2 linked regions of the Homo sapiens genome follow. The protein of the gene in region 1 purifies or fractionates together with the protein of each later gene. This does not show direct contact. Each region holds a gene or a part of one and is shown on either strand. Other genes may lie near its edges. The genes, in order: OPCML and NCAM1.

What was found.
Region 2: the proteins of OPCML (region 1) and NCAM1 purify together in Homo sapiens (affinity purification with mass spectrometry; one large-scale study listed by BioGRID and IntAct). This does not show direct contact.

What each region holds. Positions count from the first base shown.
Region 1 is NC_000011.10:133,525,906-133,529,725, reverse strand, and holds part of OPCML (opioid-binding protein/cell adhesion molecule isoform b precursor), read left to right. Parts: intron 1-3,820. UniProt on the Homo sapiens protein: Binds opioids in the presence of acidic lipids; probably involved in cell contact.
Region 2 is NC_000011.10:112,967,674-112,971,493, forward strand, and holds part of NCAM1 (neural cell adhesion molecule 1 isoform 2 precursor), read left to right. Parts: intron 1-3,820.

The sequences.
Region 1 (3,820 bases):
ACTTTCACTGCGTCTAAAAACCAAAGGCTGATGTAATAATGGAACCTTGACCTGGTTAGGCCTCAATGCCATTTTATTCTGCAGCTTCTATTTCTTGGTAAAACATGTATCCATCCCAGAGTAATTTTAAGGTTAATGCTGTTGTCGCCTGGTACCTTCCACTGATATCACAAATAGCTTTTCTAGGCAGAATTTCTGGGATGGAAAAGACAGTCACCACGTGGAGACTGAGATGAGCCCACACCCAAGACAGGGCAGAGGGCCCGTGGCCAACTGACTTGTCATGCTAGAGGCACAGTCCGAGGCTCTGGACACCCCTGGTTGGGGTAATTTTGTTGTTCTAGTAGGAGGAGAGAGATAGTCTGGGCTGGTGGCCTTCTTGACCTTGGGTCTGGGGGCTCTGTAGGAAGCAGGAAGCGAATACTGCTAGATATGTGCATCAGAATCACCTAGGAGGAGAGAGGCAGGTTAAAATGTGGAGTCCCTGTCCTCGTCTCAGACGGAAGCATTTTGAACTAGCATCCCAGGTCCTTCTGATTACCTGCAAACCACTCTGTCTGTCACTTAAAACCTGTGACCATGGCCTACAGTATTTGAGTATTTGAGTATTTGAGTCAAAACCTGTCTTCTTCTTGTCTTTTCTCCTCCAGCTTTGAGAAATGGCTCTGTGGCCATGGGGCAGGGTGGAGTAAGGGCAAGAAGATGTTGTCATTGCCAGCAGCCAAGGCTCAGTTCCTGAGGCACAGTGCTGCCCAAGTCCTTCCAGGGGCCAGCACCATGATGCAAGGATTGCTAACTTGGAAGACTTCTTTGCTCAAATTCAGACCATGACTTCCTGTTTGTCCCCTTCTTCTTGGCCCATCCTGTTTGTATCTCCTTCGTCTTGTGACTCTAAGCAGGGGAGTTAGCTGGGAGGGGTCCCCATTTACCCAACCTGGATTGAGCTGTGTCTTCATGCGCTGATCTGTGAGTCCAGGTTCTGGGTACAACTTCATCTCTTGCACCTTAAACAGGCTTTGCCCGTTTAGGGTCAGAAAACCCTGGGCTTGGATAGAAAATCCCCCGAGGTTTAGGATTCTTCCTTCTCTAGCACACACCTTCCTGCTTCTTCCTTCAGGGAAGTCCCCAAATCTTGAGTTTCTGGGCTGGGATGTTTGGCTTTGGGGTAAGGCCTGGGGGCAGGCTCTACAGCCAAGTTTTGATGAATTCCTTTCCTGCTCCTTAGCCTCTCACCAGCCCAGAGCCGGCGAACCTGCTAAGAGTGCCTGATGTGCACAAGGGGTCTAGTGGGGGAATCCACGCGCCAGACTCACTAAGAAAGAGATAGGAACAAGGACAGAGCATCTGGTCATGAGCAAGTTCCCATCGTCCTTTAGCCCATCATGGATTCACGCCATCATGTGGCCCTCAATCCCTTAAAAATGATCGACATGTTAATAAGGTTAGACTGCGTCATCTGCATTCAGCATGGGCCCAGTGGCAATAGCAGGTGCTGAGAAGGAGATAGCATCAGCTGCCTCATGAAGATGGCTTTTTCAGTAGCCTGGAACTGGGCAGCACTACTCAACCTGAGATTAATCAGAGATCCCGACGGGCTTGAGGTTCTCCCATGTTCCCTCGGTCCTGTCTGCCTTTGTGCTTTCTCGAATTCTTAGCACCCTTGGCCACATCTCTGTAACCTAGAAAATTACAGAAGGAGATTCTTTAGACAGCTGGCACTTGCCTGCATTTGTTGTCTAGCAGCTCTGGGCCTGGGTCTCCCATGCCAGCTACTGGGAACTATCTCTGGTGGTTACAGCCTCAAATCTGTGTCAGGGCTGCCTGGGGCTGAGTGCACTTCCCTTTAAGTGGGACTCCACCCAAACCTCTAAGTATGCTGAAAGCTGAGAGTGATCTCTTTGATTAGTGGCTCTTTGAGGCTTATTTGGTTGGTTCAAGGCATTCTCTAAGTCTCAGTTTACCAATCTGTAGAATGGGTTCCAGCCATGTATGAACCTTGTTTCCAACTGCACAGAGTAGCTGAACACCTAGGTTAGATGATAACAAATAAACACTTCTAAATTTTTATTATAAAAAAACTCATCCTGGTCCTCTAGGAATAGGGTAAAGAGAGAAGGCAACTCGCATGTTGGAGAAGGGGAGAGGACATTCCATATTGTTAAAAATGGGAGAAGATAAGGTAGAATCATACTGACCATATATGTATGTCTTTGTCACAGTGATGAAAATTAGTAAAAGACAATCTACTCCTTCATTTATTGAACAAGACTTTATATACGTTCTGATTAAACAATGTATTAAGATATTCTCCTGCCTCAAAAATCATTAATCGAGTAAAACAGGAAATTGTTAAGCTTTTTCTTCTTTTTGACCCCCAATAAAATATGCATTCTGACTTTGAGCTTTTAGGTCTTAGTTTTTCTGCTGTAGAAAACTAAGGCAACAGACATGGCACCTTTGGTCTCTCAAAACGTTGCTTTGTGGTATATTTGGTGGGGTGCTAGATACATGGACTTGTATGTCAGCCTTGGACAGCTGGAACTCCAGGAGCCCCATCTAATAGCCTTTGGCCTATGGGCACTGGCTTTTCTGATGCTGGTCCGCTGGACAGGGACCCCATCAGCCTGCAGCCCTGTTTGCAGATGGACTGTTGCCATCTGCCTGCAGCTGCCTGGGGCTGGAGACAGAGAGATATGGAAGCAAACTGTGATTCCTGTCAGTGAGCTCAAGTGTCAGCCCCCAGATGGTCTGTGGCTGCTGACAAGCCAGGCTGTCAGGAGCAGTGGATGTTAGCACCTCTGATACCGACTGGCACTTTCCAGACAGAGAGGGCCAGGCAGGTGGCTTCACCTTGGGGCGGCTCTGCTCTCCCACTCCTTCTGATCCCAGTCCTCAGTGCAGGGCTAGGTCCTGAGGACATTTGTCCCTCTTGCCTTTTATGCTGTTGGTGGGAGACCCAGACTTACAACTTGCTACTTATCTGCAAAGCCTTGGTTGCCTCTGCATTTTCCCTGAGGGGTGGGGATGGTTCTAACACAGTAGGGCATGGATGTAGTTCCACTTGCTGGATTTATACACCACTCACTTGATACCCCAAGATGGTGGTATTTGTATGGCTCAGGGAAGGATTAAAGGTAGCCCTGAGAAGGGAGCCAAAAGAAATCCAAAACCAGAGAGAAGCTTGAAGATGAATGTGCTTGCTACTGCCTTCCTCTAAGCATGTGAACATACATTCCCTCCTCTCTTCTTCACCACCCCCTTGCCAACCATAGATGCATGCCCCTTCCTGCACACATATACACGCAAGGCACACATGCATTTCCAAGCCAGAGTTTAGCTACTCTCAAAATCACATTCACAGCTCTTTAAGGAAAGCAAGTCTTCCCTCTTGCCTTCTATATCTGCCTTTCCAGAACTCCCAACTCTAGCCCCCAGCCTTGGTGCTCTCCCTGTGGGCACACATGGCAGGAGGCCCACAGGCTGCCTGTGCCAGACACGGCCATACATGTGTGAGTGCTTCTTCCTAGCAACGCAGAGATTCCCTGCACATCCACCCACTCGCCTCTGCGCCCCAGAGCCAGTAAGTAGGTGCTAGAGGCAGGGCTTTTGCTTGTCTCCCATCACGTCCTGTCGCCACCCCCACCCCAGACCTCTTGGTTCGGAGAGGCTGGGGACCATCCTGCAGTCACTAGCCTAACTTAATTAAAAGTTTACAAAATGCTTTGAGAACCCCCTGGGCAATGTGCTGGGTAAGTGCAAAGGATTATCATTATGATGCAGGCGCATTCTCGTTAATGAGCGGAGATGCTGTGCTGAGAGA
Region 2 (3,820 bases), about 21 Mb from region 1:
AGACATAGTGCCCTCTTTTTAGAAGGATTTTAAAAAGGGTATTATGATACACAGGACTCCTTCAGAGATTAGAACTAGGCTTAAAAAATTGGTCACTAAATATGCCTGCAATTCCATGTTGGTTGTGAATACTTCAGAGAAAAAAATGGCCTGATTATAAGGTTGAAAACCATCAGCACAAGGGTGGATCTAGGTCTTGTTGGGCCTGAAGGGTATATAATTTTGAGGGCCTTCTTTAAGGAAAATACAAAACTCTTCTTGCTTTTGCGAAGGTTAGTTGAATACATGACCATGAGAACACATTGCCAAGTCCCAGTCCCCCAGAGCCTTGGAAGGAGTCCATGCAGTTGAGGAACCCTGAAAACTTCTGGTCCTTCTTTAGCAACTATCCTTTGGTCCACTTGGACCCACTTGCTTGGGAATATAAACTAATCGTTCCAGTTTATTAAACGTGGACCTCATAGAGGTTGTATGTGTAGTGCTTTGAAGATTAGAATCATATATTGAAGTCAAAGTCATTTTTAGAAAGAAGTATTTCACTTTTATTTGACAGAAGATCTTAAATGAGATCTGAGCTGATTTGATATTTGTCACTGCCGATATTCTTGTAAATTACTAACTAGAAGAAAATAAAGCAATTGCTATTATTATTCAAATGAGTGAGATGTAAGTGCCCGATTGGCAGGGCAAGAAGTAGTTTTGCCAGCTAAAGGCATATGATATTGGAGAGGAGACTGAAGATTTTGTTTTAGCTATCTAAAAGGAGATAAACTGGATATATAATACCAATAATTATATCTTAATCATCACGTTATGGTTTACAAAACACTTTGATATGTGCTTAATCTTCACACTAATTATTTAGTAAATATTGACTGAGTACGTGCTCTGTGCTGGGTGCTGGGAATACAGCGGTGAACTAAACGTACATCGTCCCTGTTTTCATGGAGTTTCCAGTCTAGTAGTACAGAGAAATATAGACATTAAAAAGTAACACATACATTTATAATTACATATTCAGATTCAAGTCTAAGAAAAACCCAGGATGAGAGATTATCAAGGGGGATTGGGTGGTTGGGGAGGTGAAGATGTAACATTTAAACAACTGTGAAATAGGAAGAACAGATGGTATTCTCATTTTAGGGCATGGTTGATTGACTACTTAATTCAACAAACATTGAATTACAACAAACATTCCTGAATTCCTTAACTCAACAAACCTTTGTGAAGTCTGGAGAAGGTCAGATAGCTTCAGGAATCGTGTGGAGTTTCACGTTATGAAGTCCAGGAAAATAATACATCTGCCTTTAGAGCTTACCACCTGGAAGGAGGGGAGACAGACATACTATACTTATAAACAGAGGCATGAAGTAAATGCTGTTGGGCCACAAGAAAGGAAGCAATTAATTCTGCCTGGGACTCCCTCGAGCTGGGCTTGGGGAAGAATTGCTTTCATTAGATGGAGCAGGAAGAAGGGGTGATCTGGGCAGAGCAGACACCCTGAGCAGTGGTTGAGATCTGAATCTGGTTGTACATGGGGAACAGTGTGAGAGTAGTGGGGAGGAGTAGCCAGAGATAAGGAGAAAAAAAAATTCTGCAAGTCCAGATTGTAAGTCTTTAAATGGAAACTGAGACTGAGAAAGGTTAAATGACTTAGGCAGGTGGAGCTGGGACTGCAACTTACGTTCGTTGTCTGAATTTTATCCTTTTCTAAGGCAAGGATAATTTGAATATATATAGCATCTGAATACATGCCAAGCAAACAGGAATTCCTGTGGCTTCTGGACTGAGTCTGACCAAAGTGTGGGAGGAGTGATGGGGAGGAAGGGCACTATTCAGAGCTGTGGTCTGAAGGAACCGTCCTGCCATTCTGCAAGTTGCTGTCGTTCTGAGCCTGTTTCCCCATCTGTAAAATGGGGTTAATGACACTTCCCTTGTGGGTCTTGGTGAGCTGAAATAAAACCACATATGTAAAGCAGATATAAAGTATGTACTCATTATGTGCTTTAAAAAAGTTCCCTGTGGTCAGATATTTTATTTGAAATGTTTGTTTAAAAAGGTGTACAGTACTCTGAATATGATGTGCAAAGTTCTGTGCTAGAGGCTTAGAGGAAAAACAAAATAAATTTAAGGTTACTATACTGACCCTTTCAGGTGGTTGGAGAGGAAGCACTTTTGCTTAGTTCAAGCTGCGAAGAAATCATGAAAGATATTATATCAGTAAGTGCCCGAATGAAGCAGGCAGGTAAAAACTGGGAAAATTGAGAGGCAAAAATCATGTCTATTAGTTTTAATGTCTGGGGGAAAAAAGAGGTATAGAAAAGCTAGAACTGACCTGGACCTCCACAGATATGAAGGTAAATAGGGAGAGAGGGCCTGTTTTCCTATAGGATGAGGTGGATCTGGCCAAAGAATTGCTATTGAAGAGCAGTTAAAGGCTGGAACTTGGGGCAAGCCATATTTAAATCTTAAATGTCAGACAAAGGAGAGGAGTCCTGCTGGAGATGACAGAGAAATTAAAAATATATATATATGTTTAAGAGGATAGTTAACAATAGCAACTGAGCGTGTGCTGCCTCAGGCTCTATGTTTGGGACTAGCTGGGAATTAGCAGAGAGTTAAGTAGGAACAAATTCATATAGTTCATTGCAGCACTAAAAGGGAATTCTGGTTTTATATAGCATCCACTATGGTGGTCGGACAAAATGAAGGGCTAACGAAGGGATTTTTATTGCTGTATGAAACATCAACTAGATGATACTAGGAGAAGGGAGGCTAGTGAAGTCCAATGAAAGTATCTTGCTTAATCAGTAGGAACACCTGTATGCGGGGAAAGGACACCATTGGGCTTAGATTCGAAAGATCTGGGTTCAAGAAGTTGCTCTGCTACTAACTAGCCAAGTGAATTTATATCAGTTATGTAACCTCTTTGAACTGTAACTTCCGCAATCGAATATAAGAACAAAATAAGATAATATATGGGAAATGCATTGTAAATGAAATATTTCACAGCTATACATTTTATTAGTAGACATGTTGCTGAAAAATAAAAATCAAATTTTATGTACTGCTAGAGGTGCTTGTTTGATTAAAGAAACCCAACTATGATATATTTTCTAAAGCAGGAAATTTTGGAAAGATACACTTGTAATGATTTTGGATAAGGATAAAGGGGGCATAGCTGAGATGTTAGAAATAACAAAGCAACCAAGGGTAGATGATAGATCCCAAATGGTAGATGACTGAGAGGGAGAAAGATCTTTGAAGTTACAAACTCGAGGAAATTAAATAATCATGGTACTGTAAATATGATGGAGAAATTAAGAGACAGGTTAGGTTTTAGAAAAAGTTTGGGCCTCCTAATACCTTAACTTGTAGGTCAGTATTTTTCAAACTATGGATGATGAAATCTGTTTAACGGGCTTCCATATATATTAAGAAAGAAGTAAGAGAGGAAGGAAAAAGGGGAGGAAGGAGGGAGAGAAGGAGGGAAGAAGTGGAAAAAGAGAGTGTGTTTTATATAAGGGTAAGTACTGCTTTGAGTACTTCAATTTCTCTCTCTCTCTCTCTCTGTCTCTGTCTCTCTCTCTCTCTCTCTGTGTAATATGTAACTTGGTTGTAATGGAAAATACATTCTTTTGGCTCAGGTCAAAAGAGTTTGGAAGCTACTGTCATCGAAGGAAGAATGTGGGATCAAAGAGAGGGTGAAGCAGTCTGTAGTGGAGTAAGAGTACGTCAGAAGGTATAGAATAGAAACTGAATGGGTTGTGAGGGTGGGGAGGAAGAAATGACAGCAAAGTTACGTATTGAGCATCTAAGC